Linked DNA regions of Homo sapiens: region 2 is linked to region 1. Evidence: fine-mapped expression QTL. A gene starts in region 1. The other region holds a variant in brackets. All regions are shown on one strand. Distances are between the middles of the regions.

Evidence for each region. PIP is the estimated chance that this variant, and not a neighbour inherited with it, causes the effect.
Region 2: its variant is the best candidate, but not a certain one, in a credible set for the expression of ATP6AP1 in whole blood (TOPMed, PIP 0.62).

The regions. Positions count from the first base shown.
Region 1 is chrX:154,426,328-154,430,710 of GRCh38, reverse strand. It overlaps ATP6AP1 (ATPase H+ transporting accessory protein 1), which reads right to left and starts at 2,034. Exons shown (of 10, transcript NM_001183.6): 1 at 1,858-2,034; 2 at 1,537-1,663. The coding sequence starts at 2,018. It overlaps ATP6AP1-DT (ATP6AP1 divergent transcript), which reads left to right and starts at 2,232. Exons shown (of 2, transcript NR_103768.1): 1 at 2,232-2,583. RefSeq lists a silencer at 2,132-2,241 and an enhancer at 1,817-2,318.
Region 2 is chrX:154,515,103-154,519,485 of GRCh38, reverse strand. It overlaps FAM3A (FAM3 metabolism regulating signaling molecule A), which reads left to right and starts at 3,254. Exons shown (of 9, transcript NM_021806.4): 1 at 3,254-3,726. The coding sequence starts at 3,714. It overlaps LOC124905229 (a long non-coding RNA gene), which reads right to left and starts at 4,006. Exons shown (of 2, transcript XR_007068357.1): 1 at 3,771-4,006. RefSeq lists silencers at 2,608-2,764, 2,980-3,389 and enhancers at 2,740-3,362, 3,363-3,986. The variant A/C (reference allele first, on the strand shown) is at 2,494.

The DNA.
Region 1 (4,383 bases):
AAATAGCATCCCAGTCACTCTGTCCCCTTAGCCTGCTTCCTTCCCTAAAGGCCGTAACACTGACATCATATCCTATACCGACTTAGTATTTACTGGCCACCCTCACAAGAATGTCAGCTTCCTGAGGGTGGGGGCTTGGGTTCTTCTGCTCACTGCCATATCCCCAACACTTCACAATACCTGGCACATAGTAGGCTTTCCATATTGGGCAAATGAATGAATGGGTGAATGCCCTAAGACTGGGGGATCCTGGCTAGATGTTTTATGTGGATTATAAGAATTCCCCCTCACAGGCCGGGCGCGGTGGCTCACGCCTGTAATCCCAGCAGTTTGGGAGGCTGAGGTGGGTGGATCACGAGGTCAGGAGTTCAAGACCAGCCTGGCCAACATGGTGAAACCCCATCTCTACTAAAAATACAAAAAAATACAAAAATTAGCTGGGTGTAGTGGCGGGCGCCCTGTAATCCTAGCTACTCGGGAGGCTGAGGCAGAGAACTGCTTGAACCCGGGAGGCGGAGGGTGCAGTGAGCTGAGCTGACATTGCACCACTGCATTCCAGCCTGGGCAACAGAGCGAGACTCCGTCTCAAAAAAAAAAAAAAAAAAGATTTCCCACTCACAGCCCTCTGATATAGGTGGTGTCTTCATTTTACAGATGTAGAAACTGTCATTCACAAAGATTATTTCATGCCTCCAATGGCTGGTTACATGGTAGAACTAGGACTCAGTTCCTATTTGACTATATTATTTACCACCTCCTGAAAAGACTTCAGGCCACCACCATCTGCCCACACAGCAACCAAGGGAGACTACAAGGGCAATGAGCCATACAGGCCACCAACAAGGGAGGGCCTAGCAGAGACTTGCTATCTTAGAGTCATCTCATGGTCTCCACGCCTGCTTTTGGGGCAAAGATCCTGGATGGGAAGGAAAACAGCATGCGGGTTATGAGCTCCAATTGGGAGGGAGGATTGGCAGACTCAGGCTGGAACCAAAGTGGTATCTATCAACTGTAGTGAAACATTGTATCTCGACAAACCTTACTTTCCTTGGCAGTGAAACCAAGATAATGACATCAGTGTAGCAAGTGCCTACAAAGCACTAAACAGGTGAGCATTTTCCAATTATCATTATTATGATCATCACAGCTAGAATTACAACTCTGCCACCCATTAGCTGTATGAGCTTGGACAAGTCACTTAACCTCCAGCCTCAGTCTTCTCATCTATAAACAAACAGGGACGATAATCCCCACCCACCATATTGGACTAAGTCAGATATCCAAAGTGCTTGGTACTCAGTAGGTACCTGGCCTCTGGTCCGTCGCTTCCTCCAATCAAGTTGGTGCCATTTCCGAGGCTGTCGCCATGCCCACTGAAGCGTTTACTACAGGCCTTCCCATGAGACGACCCACACCTCCCTACAGTTGGGACAAGGTCACTGAAGCTTCCCTTGGGGAATGGGCGTCAGTGTCATGGGGGGAGGGGGCCTGGCTGCCTCCCGATGACCGGGGGAGAGTGGGCTGGGGCGGGCGCACCTTGTCCTGCAGGAACAGCAGCACATTCCTGGGACCCAGCTCCAGGGCGGGATCTAAGTAGGTAGAGAGCTGCAAGTCGCTGGTGATGTGGCCTTCATGAGTGTCGGCCGCAGGAGCCCACAAGTCCCTGGCAGGGCACAGAAGAGGTGCTGTCAGACGGGGGCGCATGTGGACTGGAGCTCTGTCGCCGGCAGATTCGCTGCGAGCCCCCGAGCAAGGAACAGTCCACCTCCGGGCCTCACCACCCCTCGCCTAGGACAGCGCCGGAGTCGGGCGAGGGCGCCTCAGCCGCCACAGCGCATCCCACCCCGGCCCGCTCACCGGTCACTCGACCACAGCACCAGCGGGACCTGCTGCTCCGCCGCTGCCGCCGCCGCCGCCGCCGCCAACGACAAAAACACCGGCAGCCACGGCATGCGCCAGAGCGCCTGGGCGCACCGCGGCCCCATCCGCACTCGAGCCGTCGCCATGGCCGCCATCATAGCCTCAGCCTCCACTGCCTCAGCGGCCTCGACAGCCGCAGATCAGGTGACCGTTGCCCCCGCCCGAGCCCCGCCTCGCACCTCCATTGGCCCCAGCGCGGGCCGACCGGCAGGGCCGCAGGTAATTGGACCAAGTGCATGCCACTCGCGGCCACTCCTTCTCACTGGTTGGCTGTACGTGTCTCCAGGCGCTCACGCTCCGAGTGGGAAAGGGGATGGGGCCCAGCTAGACCGACTAGGACGAGACAAGAGGGACAGGGAGGCTTCGCGGAACCCTACGCCCACCCGACGCGTTCGCCCGTCCGTTTTTATTTTTATTTTTATTTTGGTTTTTTTGTTGTTGTTCTCTTCTTTTGTCTTTTTTTTTTCTTTAGAGACGGGGTCTAGCTATGTTGGCCAGGCTGGTCTCGAGTCCCCGGGCTCAAGCGATCCTCCCGCCTCAGCCTCCGGAAAAGTGGGACTACAGGCGCGCATCGCCGCACCCGGCCAATCCCTGTTTTAATCCTTTTCCTTAAAATTGCAAAAGTGGTGTCTTTTTCCTGCAGATGGACCCTCCCTGATACAGGTGAGAGGAGACTGTAATCCCTTAGAACGAGGAGTGAAGCGGGCTCAGGATAGCATCTAGGGGAACACCCAGCACTTACATTGGGCAGGAGGAGAAGGGTCCAGAAAAGAGATCGGACAAGGAGCAATCAAAGAGGAAGGAGAAAACCCAGAGCGAAGCGTGGCATCAAAGACACCCTAACGGGCCGGGCGCTGTGGCTCACGCCTGTAATCCCAGCACTTTGGGAGCCCGAGGCGGGCGAATCATGAGGTCAAGAGATCGAGACCATCCTGCACAACATGGTGAAACCCCATCTCTACTGAAAATACAAAAATTAGCTGGGCATGGTGGTGCACACCTGTAGTCCCAGTTACACGGGAGGCTGAGGCAGGAGAATCACTTGAACCCGCGAGGCGGAGGTTGCAGTGGGCCGAGATCGCGCCACTGCACTCCATCCTGGGCGACAGAGTGAGAGTCCATCTCAAAAAAAAAAAAAAAAAAAGATTGTAGTCATGATTGTCACATGTGATTCAGACTAGGACTAGGATAGTGGCAGTTGAGCTGGAGAGAGGAAGTGGGTCTGACAATACAGTCAAAGAAGATTGTAGCTTTTGGGTCTCTCTGAGTTGGGGACTGGGAGACGAGGTCACTTGGGGGCTCACTGAGTTTCGGGTGCTTAGGGAAACCCCCAAGTGGCCATTTCCAGGCCTTAACTAGCTGAGGAGAGAGGTTTTCACTGGAGCTTCACTGTATCCCAGGAGAATCCAGCAAACTTAAAAAGGAAAGCATGTCTATTATGTTTCTGTTACTTTTGTTACATAGTTTCAAGGCAAATACTTCCTCTGGAATGCGGAAGGCAATCTTGCCTCCGCCAGGACTCTGTTGCTGAGCTGCTTCCATGCTTAGGGAAGAAACCCACCTGTGGCTGCTTTTATTCTTCCCTGCATTGCTAGGGGTCCCTGGAGTGATGGCCCTGGAGGCTTCCTGAAGCACCTGCTATGGGCCAGGCACCTGGACTCTGCCCCGGAAGTTGACAGTTTGGTCTAGAGGACATGCAGGACAGCAGGTCATGATACAGGGTCATGAATATTCCAAAGGTTGAGACATGGGACTGGGAGGGATGTAAGGAGAGGGGCACCGATGAAGCTGCTCCCACCAGGAGGTGATATCTAAACTGAACCAATCACCAAATGTTGACAGCACCAATGAGCACCTTCTGTCTGGGGACTTCATCTTTAGGGTAAAAGCATTTTGTTCATTGAAATCCTGGCTGGGCGTGGTGGCTCACGCCTGTAATCCCAACACTGGGAGGCTGAGGCGGGCAGATAACCTGAGGTCAAGAGTTTGAGACCAGCCTAGCAAACATGGCAAAACCCCGTCTCTACTAAAAATACAAAAATTAGCTGGGCGTGGTGGCGGGCACCTGTAGTCCCAGCTACTCAGGAGGCTGAGACAGGACAATTGCTTGAACCTGGGAGGCGGAGGTTGCAGTGAGCCGAGATCGTGCCATTGCACTCCAGCCTGAGCAACAAGAGCGAAACTCCATCTCAAAAAAAAGAAAAAAAAAAAGGGCCGGGCACTTTGGCTCATGCCTGTAATCCCAGCACTTTGGGAGGCCGAGGCGGGCGGATCACGAGGTCAGGAGATCAAGACCATCCTGGCTAACACGGTGAAACCCCATCTCTACTAAAAATATGAAAAATTAGCCAGGCGTGGTGGCGGGCGCCTGTAGTCCCAGCTACTCGGGAGGCTGAGGCAGGAGAATGGCGTGAACCCGGGAGATGGGGCTTGCAGTGAGCCGAGATCGTGCCACTGCACTCC
Region 2 (4,383 bases), 89 kb before region 1:
AGGTGGCTCATTCAGGGCCCTTCTCAAGCCACTTTCTAAAAGTGTCAACCAGTCACTGTTAACTGATGCTTCTGTATTGGTGGAAATGAAATATCTATTGATTTCCGTGCATGGTGGCACATGCCTGTAATCCTAGCACTTTGGGAGGCCGAGGCAGGCGGATCACCTGAGGTCAGGAGTTCGAGACCAGCCTAGCCAACTAGTGAAACCCCATCTCTACTAAAAATACAAAAAAATTAGCCGGGTATGGTGACAGACGCCTGTAGTTCCAGCTTCTCGGGAGGCTGATGCAGGAGAATCACTTGAACCCGGGAAGCAGGAGTTGCAGTGAGCCGAGATCACGCAACTGCACTCCAGCCTGGGCAACAGAGTGAGATTCTGACTCAAAAAAAAAAAAAAAAAGAAAAGAAAAGAGAAAAAGAAATATCTATTGATAGAATTTTTAAAAGAACTCTATATTTCTATGGACATATATATGAGCCCATAAAAGTAATACATGGCCGGGCACAGTAGCTCACGCCTGTAATCCCAGCACTTTGGGAGGCCAAGGCCGGCAGAACACGAGCTCAGGAGTTTGAAACGAGCCTGGCCAGCATGTTGAAACCCCGTCTCTACTAAAAATATAAAAATTAGCTGGGTATGATGGCAGGCACCTGTAATCCCAGCTACTTAGGAGACTGAGGCAGGAGAATTGCTTGAACCTGGTAGGCAGAGGTTGCAATGAGCCAAGATTGAGCCACTGCACTCCAGCCTGGAGACAGAGCAAGACTCTGTCTCGGGGGAAAAAAAAAAAAAAGTAATATACACACACACAAAAAGATAGTAGTGATGGTTGTACAACATTGTGAATGTAACTGATGCCACAGGATCGTATACTTAAAATGATTTGGATGGCAAATGTTATGTTATATATGTCTTACCCCAATACAAAAGTACATCTATAAATATATAGTATTATTTTGGGTGTGCTCCTCTCTGTATAGAGGTTATCCCGTGGTGTGTGTCTGTAACTTGATTTTTTCCAATTCTGCCCTCAGTTTCCTGCTCTTTCCGGGCCTCAGGAGGCTTGACATCCCTTTGACCACAGCACTGAAAGGTGTTCTCTTTGCTGAGAACTCAGTGTCTTCTGCCTGGCAGAGGCTTCGGCCCTCTATTTTTGTTTCTATCCCTTATGCATTCTCCCCGGCAGGTGCCCCTCCCAGCTTTAAGTGTATGTATACTCTGGATTTTTCCGTCTTCAGAACAGTGCTCAAAAATACCTGGGGTGTCCTTCTAACAGAAAGTGCAGAGACGTCTGCTGCAGGATTGCCCACCCCCATTTTGTAACATCTGCTATTTGAGAACTGCTGAAGCTGCCCTGATCTATGAGGGCTGACCTGGAAGAACAGATGACTGTGAGTGTACCCCAGGACGTTGGCCTGGATGGTGACAGACCATGTGCTCTAGTCACCGTGCTGGCCAGACCCCCACAGGAATCCAAACCATCCCAGAGAAAATAAGGGACTTTTGCAAGGCTGCCCCAGGAAGCACGGAAGACGTGGAACTGAATCCCAGGCCTCTGGCCCATCACCCACGTGGTGTCCCCAAGGAAGGGAGAGTTGTCTCGGAATGCTCAGGGGGACTCATTAAAGCAACACTTTCATAAATGCCTGCTCTGAACAACATGTAAATATTGTCTTTGAAAAACACCGGCTGGCAGCTCAAGGGTGTGAGTAACCTGGAGCTTCTTCGACTGGGCCCCCCTGAGGAGGGCATGGAGCCCAAGATTCGTTACCATAATTACTTGAGAGGCTGTCAAATTCCATGACAAAACGCAAATGCAAAGCCCTGGCCCCAGCAGCAGGCAGCTGAAAGGGACCTTGACCCTGTTGAGTACTCCAGTATAGAAGCTGCTGGATTCTAACCAGGGCTCTCCCATGCCCGGCTCTATAAACTTTCTCTATATTTTGCATTGTTTCCCTAAGGGTAGGAGATTCCCGTAAGTTGGGTCAAAGGGCAGGGAGGTTTCCGTGGTTCTCATTGGGCCCTGCTGCTGCTCTCCAGACAGATGATGGATCAGCTGTCAGGGTGGCCCCGGCCATGCCAGCGCAGTAGGTGGTCAGGGCGCACTTGGGGCAGCCGGCAGGGCAGAAGGGACGGGAGCTTGACCCGTGTTCTCATGGGCAGAGGGAGCCCGGGCAGTGTTGGGGGCAGCGTGCGGGCAGGCGCGGAGGGGAGATAGCCAGGCAGTCAGGGAGAATTGGGGTGACTGGAGAAAGGCCGAAGGGCCGCGTCTGCCTGCGGCCGGAGACCACCCCAGGTCCATACAGCCAGCTGGGTGCCGGGCACCATTTGGAGCCGCTGGGAAAGCCAAGCACCGCTCTTTCTGGAGCCTTCTTTTTTCCTATTGTTAGGGAATTCACGACGTCACACTTGTTTTCAAGTGAAAATAAGAGTTGTGTAGGACGCGAAAGTCACGTGACTTGAAAGCTGAACCTGAGAGGCCTCAAAATA[A/C]ATTCTGGTTTGCTGTGAAAGCCTCGGGTTATAGCGCTAAACTCCCCCCTCCACTGCCCCCGAAAGTTGTATTCTCCTCTGCTTTTAGGGTGGGGTGTGGCGTAAACAACACAGCTTGAGCAGCTCTGAGGAGGAGGGTGTTAGAGACCAGGCAGGCGGAGCAGGCAAGAGTTTTCAAGGATGTCGAAATAGTTTGAGACGCCCCGTCCCATTATAAAAGTGATAACGAGAGACAGCAGGAACGCGCTTCTGGACAGAAAACAGACCCTAAGGAAAGGCAGCCAGAGGCTCACGCTGGATCCTGCGGTCTTCCCTATCTGCGCCTCTGTACCTCCCTTGCCTTTACAAAGCGCATGGATCAACTTTGGAACAGGTTCTAATTCTGCCCCAGATCCATCTGCGTCTTCCCACGACTCACAAATCTGACCTCAGGGTGCAAGCGCAGCCCCAGCCCTCTAAGCCTGGGTAGGCAGGGCTCTCCCACCCGAGAAAGGGCCGAGGGGAGACTTCCGGGGCGGGACCGACGTGGGCCCCTCCCACTCGGCGGCCGGTGGGTTCAGCCTGAACGCACTGCGGAGGTGGGGCCGACGAGGGATCCAGGGGCGGGACAGGTTCGGGGCGGGACAGGTTCAGGCCCCTCCCATGCGGCGGCCAGCGCGAGCGGTAGAGGCGGGTCTGGAGGCGGGGCCTGCGTGGAGCCAGACGGCGCAGCTGCTGCCGGGGGCGGGGCCGGCGGGCTGTGGCCCCGCCCTTAGCCGCCATTGCCGGGCCTGCCTGGCCACCCTGCGCAGCGGCCTTGCGTCCTCTCCCGGGGCGGAGCGGGTCGGCGGGCCTGACAGGGAACCTCCCTGACCGAGCCCACGTCTCCCCACGGCCAGAGAAATCTCCGGCCCGGCCCGCATCGCCAGCCCCCAGGCCCGGAGGAACGGCCCGAGCCCAGGAGAACCACATCTTCGTCCCAGCCCCGGAGGCTCCTGTGGGCAAGATCGTGAGCCAACGGGTTCCTGAGGCCCCTCCTGGCCAGGCAGGGTTTCCCCGCGCGTTTCCGAGGAGCCCTGCCTGGCCGGGCGGCTGGACAAACAGGTCGTAGCACCGATCGCGCCCGCCCCCAGCAGGGGTCCCGCACAGGCTTGCCCCTGACCCCCACCCAAACCTGTCCTTCCGCTTTGCCCCCAAACAGTGCACTTGCCGGCGGTCCCAACCCAGCAGGAGAAGTGGACATGAGGTTGGCAGGTGGGTGGCTTCCACAGCGAACGGGAGGGAGTTGAAAAGGGCACCTGGCTGGAGGCCCAGCGTCGCGACATCTGTGTCTGGAGAGGCCCGGGTGAACCACTGGGTTTGGTTTTGGAAATGGAGGACTCTGCACAAACACTCGTTCCTTGACCTTAACCAAATCCTTTCACCTCTGAGGACGTCAGCTCCCCGAGCTATGACATGAGGATTAGTATAGTCAGTATCTCCCAACGCAGGTAGCAGACCAGCTGCTTTTTGGAAAATGAGTGGTGAGAGAGAGGAGGTGGGCAGTCCAGGTGGAGAGGCGTGGTCTTAGAGGGGAAGTGACAAAAGTGGCTGTGGGCTTCGACATGAACCCGATGACAGCCCTACTGTCACCTGGACAAGTAAGATGAAGATCCTTGGGGAGGGATAGGTTGGGGCTGGGTGGAGAGTAGAAACAACTCGGGAATTGGACTTCAGACTTGCTAAGGTGGTAACTTTGTGGACATATCCAGGTGGAGCTGGCCACTGAGGAACCAGCTGGCAGGGAGTGGTTTCAAGAGAGGCCACGGCTGGAACTAGAAAATAGAAAGTCATTGACACATGGTGCTTAATTAAAGAGCTAGGAGTAGATGACATCATCTAAAAACACACTACAGGCCGGGCGCGGTGGCT